Regions from separate parts of the Homo sapiens genome. Here region 2 is reported to be linked to region 1. The links are microRNA targets in miRTarBase. Many come from high-throughput screens and were not tested one by one. Region 1 holds a microRNA gene; the other region holds the end of a gene's coding sequence.
Evidence for each region. Region 1 holds the annotated microRNA hsa-miR-3169 (UAGGACUGUGCUUGGCACAUAG, at 2,571-2,592, opposite strand). A microRNA usually pairs through its seed, bases 2 to 8, with sites in the 3' UTR of a target mRNA and lowers its output. Matches are read on the target gene's strand: a 7mer-m8 pairs with bases 2 to 8, a 7mer-A1 pairs with bases 2 to 7 and ends in A, and an 8mer does both.

Region 1 (4,404 bases):
TCAGAATTATTTTATAAAACTTATCAGCAAAAGTACTAAATGTTATATTATTGTATTGCATTGTTCTAGAAACATACAAGTATCTGTTCAAAATTGAATTGGTTAGAAAACAAAACCAGTGTGTGTTAAAAGATCATTTAAAAATGCATGACTAAATTATCAATCCTCCATCAACCGACTTTATAAAAGAAAAAGCACATAAGTTATTTGAGCCATGGATTTTATCTGCACTATGTGAATGGTTTATATGAGGAATTTCCAACTCTTTTCTCTGGCCACATATAATTTTTTCCTTGCTTTATTTGATTCTTTTTATTTTTTATTATCCAAACTCTGGATTTATAAGTCTTTTTCCTTTAATATAAAACTCTCTTGTTCAAAAAAGTACTTTTAATTTTAAAATAAATATTTGCTAAATTTCCAGACTCTTTTTGATACTAAATGAAGTAAATATCTTAAAATATATAAAACTAAGGTCAATATATGACTAAGGTCAATGAAGGAAACACATTAGTAAAGTAGATACAAGTATATTAGTATTAAGACTGATGTAATCTATACTCACACAGCATATATTATGCATTATGAGGTTAATTTTATGCATTAAAAGGTTAATTTTTTAAAATGTTGTCTTTACTAGTCATGAGCACATGTATCACTGATGCCAATTTATGTCAACCTAAGGAAGGTCAATGGAAGAAGCACTGGATCCAAAGGCTAAACTGAATTATACTTTTGCTAGTAACTTTGGACGAATTATTTCTCACCCCATCTTCCAAATTAATGATCAAACAGTGTTAATAATACATATCCTTGTTATCGCTGCAATTTAATGGGACTCAAGTTAACAAATCTATGTGAATGAGTGTTGAAGAGTTGAAAGTGTAACTATTATTCACCTTGTTAAAAAAAAAACATGGGTTATAGAGCCAAATAAAACTAGCTTGGAATTTTCCTCATCTTCTTCATAGATCCAAATCCCTTGACAAGTTACTTAGCATCTCTGAACCTCAGTGCAATCAGCAAAGTTGAGGTAGTAATGCATAGCCTGGAGGTTGAATATAAAGTTACATTGAAACAAGACATCCCAAAATAACTAGTATACTGTCTGGCCCTTAAAAATTTACTGAATATATGATGATTTTCCTTTCTACTGTATCTTACATCATGAATTTATTTAACATAATTAGTGCTGGCAACCTTATGAAAGGAAAAGACAAATCACAGATTATATTTTCAATAGGTTTTTAAAAAATCAAAATATATAATAAACTCTACCAAAGCAATAAGCAAATTAAGAATAAACAATCCTGTAGAAAACAAGCAATTTAAGGAATCAGAAACTGAAATGGCCAATAAACACAGGGAATTATTTTCACAGTTTTCTCATCTGAACAGCTAATAAATAACACTGATATACCATTTCATATCCATAGTGGCAAACTTTTCCATTTGCATAATTACTTTTATTATAACTGAGGATAAACAGAAATTCTTATACATAATTTTTTATTGCCTAATAAAGTTGTATGTGTGTATCCCTGAATTCAGCAATTTCACCAGAAAGCATATATGTGAGAAACTCTAATAAATGGACCAAAAGAATTCCAAAACTGTACCAACCTATCTCAGTAGAAGAATGAATAAGCCTTGTTTTTATTATAAATTGAATATTAAAAAGCAATGAAAATTAATCAGATCTACATTTATCTTCATTTAAAACCTCAAAAACATAATGCTAAGTCTAAAAATTAAATCATAAAATTATATATACAGTAGTTTAAATTTACAAAGCAATTTCATATATATTAAATTATAATTTATTTTTAAAATGCAAAAGCATGATAGGAAAGATTTACACCAACCTGAGAATCATAGATCTTTCTGGGAAGACAGTCCAGGAAATAGCATGGGGTACATCTAAATTCTATCAATTATATTTTTATATATATACCAGGAAGAATGATTTCTTCTGCATCCTAGTGTGGGTATTGTCAATGTACATACCAATTCTTCTTAAGGCTGTTAAACCCACCATTCTCACTACCAAAATATTATTATTCATTTTGTTTTGAATAAGCTCAATAATCTATGTTGTGCTATTATTGTTATTATTGTTGTTGTTGTTTAATGAGCAAGCCAAGTTTATGAATATGTGAACAGTGAATAGATTCCATTTTGAGAGACATTGATTTATCACAATGAAATACAGACCAATTATAAGCTACAGTTTCTTCACGTGTGTTTTTAAAATATCTTATTTTACTCGAATAAAAATTCTTTTAGAAATTTAGTCGAATTTTTCTTGTGCCCTCTGATAAATTACCTCCTACTTAATGTTGTCTGTATTTTCAGTAAAAAGTTTACCAATATTTACGTGTATTTGCTAGGACATATCTGAGTTGAATTCCTCATTATGACTCTTACAGTTTATATGACCTAAAACAATTTCTGTTTCATCAGTTGTAAAATTGGTATGAAATATTACAAGGTTTTGTGAGGATTCATGTGGGATGACATATGTAAAAACACAGGACTATGCTTGGCACACAGTACCATAAGACTTTGTGCTATGTGCCAAGCACAGTCCTATGTTTTCACATATGTTAGTAGCATAAGTCACAGTACAAAGTATTATTAGCAACCTTATCAACACTGTCACTATTACCATCAGGCCATTCAAAGATTTAGAAATAATTAGGATTTTATCGTTGTTTGCTCTTTAAGTCAATACTTTGCATGGTTTTGAAAGTCCTCCTTAATTTCACCACACTTTCCCACATGTTAAGCTGATCTCTTTACGACATTGTATCTTAAATCAGCATGCTCTTACCAGACCTATGGCTTTTGATCTTTCATCAGCCTCACCTACAATGTCCTTTTCTTTCCATTTGTCTATTCTAATCCTTTCTATCTTCCAAAGCTTGCCTCAAATCTCATCTTGTCTACAGTTTCATTGAATTGATTTAAATCTTCTCAACCAATATTTATATTGTCTGTATCAGGTAATTTAGTGGTTAATTATGTTCTACCTTATATTCTTCACTGATGTTTTATATTCACATTGTCACCACAAAGTAAACTGTTTGAACCTATGGGCTGCATCTGTGATTTCTTTCATCACTCTGATAGAGCATTACAGAATCATGAGTGAGTAGCAGATATTTGATACATTTTGACTGTAATAAAAAATAACCCATTATATTTTTCCTAGCATCCAATTGTGTCTATCACTCATCAGTTCAAGGAAAGTCTCTCTGCCATAAATGGTGGTTTCCAATAAAATTTATTTCACTTAATTTAATTCATGTTGCACTCAGTTTATCTCTTGTCTAAGGTAAACTATCCAAGAAGAAAACCTTTAACAACTTTTCAATGTCATGATAAATACCTTTTGGATTTTTACAAAAAATTTTTACTAACATAATTAAGTGTGATCAAGTAGGATAACAGAATAAGAATGGTTATTCCTAAAGGTATGAAAAAGTGGGAGCATCAGCAAAATAGGGCTGCTATTTCTTATGGTTTTTTTTTTGGTTTAATTAGGCCCATTAATCTGAGAAATAACCTGAGACTATAAAAGAAATAAATAAAGAATCAAATACTTCTCCTAACAGGAGACCAAGTTAAAATAAGGTGCCTCAGTCACAGTAGAGCCCCAATTCTTAAAGGACAGTATCACTTCACACTGTAGAACTGAAATTATAATAAGCCACTGTGGGAATTAAACATCCTATAAGGCAATTTCATAAATATTATAACCAGATTATTCTGGTTAAAGCCTCCATCACTCATAGGATGATCATTTAGTTTAGAGCAAAACAAATGCATATCAGATTATAATTTATAACACTGCTTAAAATATGAAGTCTTATAGCTATTTTAAGTTTAAAACATGTTTTAATAATTACCCTTCTGAACTTCTAGGAGCTATCATATATTACTAAAACTTTTGCTCTGTTTGAGGTTTTAGAAAATTATAGCTAACTTATGAAAAATTAAAATATTCTTTTTATCAATGCTCAGTGATGGAATTTTAGGGATTGTTCTAAAAATATATTTAATTTGTAATAGATATATTTTTATACATTTCTCAATCTTCTTTATACATGCAAATATTTTTAGTCTTTTATAAGGTTCATCAGCAATTCCTCTAAAGCTTTGTCAGGAAGGTGATTCAGAATATCCCAGGCACTTTATTTCATTACAGTGTTGGAAACCAAATGATGAACTAACACAGACCCTGTATTCAAAAGAATAACTTTCCTGAAATGGCTTATAGAGTAGAGATAAATGATAAGCAAAACCTATTAAGGTGTTTCCAAGCATGTAGTCCATAAAACGCCACGTTCTAAAAATCATTGTTAATAATCATAATACACTTATGATCATTATAAACTTTTT
Region 2 (4,404 bases), not on the chromosome of region 1:
TGCTTGTACATACACCACCTCACAGCGAGTCACATAGATCAAAACTCTGCCCCACACCTCCTCCTCGGCAGGGGTGAAACGGCGTCACTCAGGACCGCAGTGTCCTCTGCAATGAAGGCTCAGTGCCCACCTGCTGCACCAAGACTTTCGTTGCACTTGAAGGCTTTTTCCGAAAGTGTGGACCCTGCACCACCTGAATTCAAATCAGTTGGGGTTGCAGGGGAGGAAGGAGCTTCTCAAAAAGGCAGCCCTGGGCCATGGCCCTGAACCTGAGAAAATCCTTGTGTAAGCCTGAGAACGTTTTATGGGTGTTCTCTGGGTTCTAGCTATGGTGGCAGCTAACTCACTCCGCTGGTCAGCACAGCCTTTACAGACTGTTTTAGCTGGGCCCAAAATAGCCTGGGGGAAAAAAAAGAATGTGTATTCTCAAATCCATCCCAAAGACAAGAAAATGGCTGGATGAGAAATTCAGTTTCCTGTTCCTAGAGATAAGCACTATGATTGCACCGTTTAACAGGCAGTCCTCACCTCCTTCCTGTAGGTGGAGGGCTACCTCCTTGCAGGGATGGCAAATCCCCACACCAAGCCTCTCTTCTACCCTCTTCTCCCTCAAAGAGAATCAACCCCACAGTTTATTCCACTAAATACAGGCCCATCACCACGACTCAGCGAACAACCTGGGCAGGTGCCAACCCAGGCTCTCCTTCAGGGACCTGGCCCATCTCTCACCGCCGTGGTGCCCCTACCCTGCAGCTTCTGACTCGTCACCCCAGTATTCTGTCCAAGGGTTACTGGGGAGATGGTCTGTCCCCTGGAACTGCCAGATCTGTAACTGTCCCACATCCTAGGTCCCCCTCTCCTGTGGGAGGTCTTGGTTTACAATACTTGACAAGTTTAAGGGTCTGAGTCCCATGTACAAATGGAAAGTGAAATCAGGTGTCAACACCAAATTCCAGGCTCCCCTGACATCAATGACTTCAACAGCCGGACCATTATTCCCCATCACCAGGGTCCTTATCACCCTCCAGGAAATCAAGTGTCCCCTAAAAAGGCTGAGCTCTAGATAGCCCCAGATATCAACTGTCTTAAGACACTTGGTATTATCCAACTTCCTCACTTTCCCCGTGTTTCTGACCACCTCTGTGCTACACACCATTCATGAGCAAAGTTAGGACCCACGTATTTCAACACCTGGCTGCTCCTGAAAATGTATGAGGACAACAGTCCTCAAAACCCAAACACTTCACCACTGGAAGTGCCATGGGAAAAGGGGGATCAGAGGCTTTTTGGAGGGAAAACATGAAGCCTTTAGAAGTGACTAGTTCGTAGCACTTAGTGACATCAACAAACCTCATTTCCTCAGCTGTACCAGCACACTCGAGGGAAGGGCGTGAAGGTGTTGTGTAACTGGCATTGGCTGAGACGAGACCAACCTCCTGTTTCCGGACTCTTATGAACTTAAATCACGGCTTGAAACTCTCCACGACCCCAGTCAGCCCCTGTGCCTCAACTATTTTCGATCAGGCAAGTGAGGTGTGAGTCAAAACAAAGGAAACTGGTCTACAGTGTGCTTTGGGCGCAGCTGGTGTCATGGTTGTGATGGAATTCAAGTTGACACTACCTATTCCCCATCAGAAAACGGCATTTGCTGGCAAAGTTGATCCCCAGACTCTGGATCTGGAGAAATTCTACACAGAGTTCAGTGACAGCCAACCCCTGAATCTCACTGCGGCAAAACAGCACAACTAAGGGAAGAAAAGTGGAAATAAAGGACATCTTTTCTTCTAAGCCTAATAAAGACCAACGTAACTGTTGGTACAGCAACTAATTCGTGAGGACAAAGCTTTTCTTCACATGCCAGTCCTTAAAAAAAACAAAGCCTCGTACAGTAAGAGTAGCCAGGTGTTAGCCACTTTAATAGAAAATATGATCAAAACTCGATTACAAGAGTTCAAAAAGACATAGAAAACCAGTGAGTTTCAATTTTATTACAAGTTTTCAAATCTGGGACTAGTTTCTTTTTTTCTTTTAACTGAAATGCCAACTTCAGCCCAGGGTTTTTTCACAACCAAACTAAAAATGACTTACTACATGGGAACATCAATGCAACAAGTAGAATTTGTAAACTCAAGCCACAAACTTAGTTAATAATCATGGTTAAGGGACATTGCCAAAGAGCAACTGATGCCTCAGTGAAGTTTGAAAGAAACTCTGCTTTCTGTGACGGCAGAGAAGAAATATGCAAGCAATTCTGCTTCAAAGAAATTTGCATAGAAATGGAAAAATGCCAGAGCCTTTAACACAAGTGAAATTGCAAAGCCTCAACACGTTCAACTCAATCCACAGAGCACCAAATGTTTAATGGGAGCCAAGGTAGGACTGAGCATTGAACTTCCAGCTATGCAACTCGCAGGGCACAATTTCAAGTGTGGAAACCATCTGTAGGCAAGCTCTTTTAAAAACATGAATTTTAGACACCGTAAATTCTAATGCAGACACTTTTGCATTACTGTTTGAATTTCAGAAGGGCACCACAAGGCACCAGAGTCTTTCAAAGTCACTCACAGCAACAATTGCATTTTTTTCCCAGCCTTGGTAGCCCCTTTCAGTTGTCTAGCCTCTGCACTGTGGCACACCACTGACATTAAATCCAGTCATGGCCTAAGTGGCATGAGGCAGCTATTTCCAGGGCACCTCCCACCTCCTTGGCATGGGAGGCTTCCCAGTCACTCCTCCTTCGTGTCCCCTCTTTCAAGAACCTCCAGAGCTCTTGGCATCAGGGGCCCCCATTGCTGGGCCCCACACGGGAGACCACATCTGGAAGCACTATTCCTACAGCTCCCTCTGCTGGAGACGAAAGTGACAGTTTGTTGCAAAGACCTGTAGAAACATTACTTACACGTTCATTTCTGTACACATTTAGTTAATTTAGAACCTGGGACTTTTACAATCGATTCCCCAAACCCCTTTATGGCAGCAACACTGAAGGAGCACAGTTTCTCTCTCTAGGAAGAAGAGGATTAGCAGACATAATTGTGTGCGTCAAGAGAAATTTGTAATCAAAAAATGAAAGTAAGACGAATGGCCCAGAAACCCGCATTTTATTGACAGTCATTTTCCCACAGAGAATCTTAGAAAGATGTCGCGTTTTCTTTTAATGAATGAGAGAAGCCCATTTGTATCCCTGAATCATTGAGAAAAGCAACAGATACAACTGACAGTCACACTTTTTAAAATCAAACAGTCACTACCTTCAGCCCACACCTCCACACCCGCATCTGCCTCCCCAATGGCTGTCAGTTCGGTAAAGTCACCCTCTCCTTCTACTCTGGTATTACCACGAGAATTGAAATTTTTAAGCAGAAAAAAAAAGAAGTCAAGTTACAAATAAATGAGTGGCGAACCAAGGGAAGCCCTTTGACTATGATTTCCAATTTTCTGTTCAATCCACACTGCAGAGATACAAGGATAAACCACCATTTTGGTTCCCAAGTTTTATTCAAGAACTCATACAAAATTTTCCAGATAAATGAAATTTAATCCTCGTCTTCCTCCTCTTCTTCGTCCTGGTTAATCTGGAAGTAACGTAATTCGTAACTCTCTTTGCTGTTAGCAACTACGCGCAACCAGTCACGTAGATTATTCTTCTTCAAATATTTTTTGGTGAGATATTTCAAATACCTGCAGAGAAAGGACACAAGAACTCCACTAGACAGTTGGTGCTTGCATTCTAAAACATTTTAACATTTATAAAACCCAGCACTCAAAATCATTACAATTCAAGGTGTTTTCCCAAGCCTCAAAAATGGCAAAGGTAAGGCAAATACACCCAGCCAAGGCTCTGAGTTATCAGCCACGTACCATCGACATCGGCAGTAACAATTAGAATAGCCTCAGCATGGTGGCTCAGGCCTGTAATCCCAGCGCTTTGGGAGGCCAAGGCAGGCAGATCACTTGAGGTCAGGAGTTCGAGACCAGCCTGAACAACATGGTGAAACCCCATCTCTACTAAAAATAAAAAAATTAGCTGGGCGTGGTGGTGCACGCCTGTAATCCCAGCTACTCGGGAGGCTGAGGCATGAGGATCCCTTGAATCCAGGAGGCGGAGGGTGTAGTGAGCTAAGATTGTACCACTGTATTCCAGCCTGGGTGACAGAGCAAGACTGCCTCCAAAAAAAGAAAAAAGAAAAAAAACTAGGCCAGGGGCACTGGCTCACACCTGTAATCCCAGCATTTTGGAGGGCTGAGGCAGGCGGATCATGAGGTCAGGAAACGGAGACCATCCTGGCTAACACGATGCAACCCTATCTCTACTAAAAATACAAAAAATTAGCCAGACGTCGTGCTGGGCGCCTGTAGTCCCAGCTAGTCAGGAGGCTGAGGTAAGAGAATCGCTTGAACCCG

Region 2: the mRNA of RPL22 is a reported target of hsa-miR-3169. Seed matches in the 3' UTR shown: 8mer at 2,375-2,382.

The regions. Positions count from the first base shown.
Region 1 is chr13:61,197,278-61,201,681 of GRCh38, forward strand. MIR3169 (microRNA 3169) reads right to left here and starts at 2,603; the gene lies at 2,521-2,603.
Region 2 is chr1:6,183,136-6,187,539 of GRCh38, forward strand. It overlaps RPL22 (ribosomal protein L22), which reads right to left. Exons shown (of 4, transcript NM_000983.4): 4 at 1,885-3,681. The coding sequence ends at 3,537. Among named protein-coding and RNA genes, the nearest start is that of CHD5, 5.0 kb to the left of the region's middle.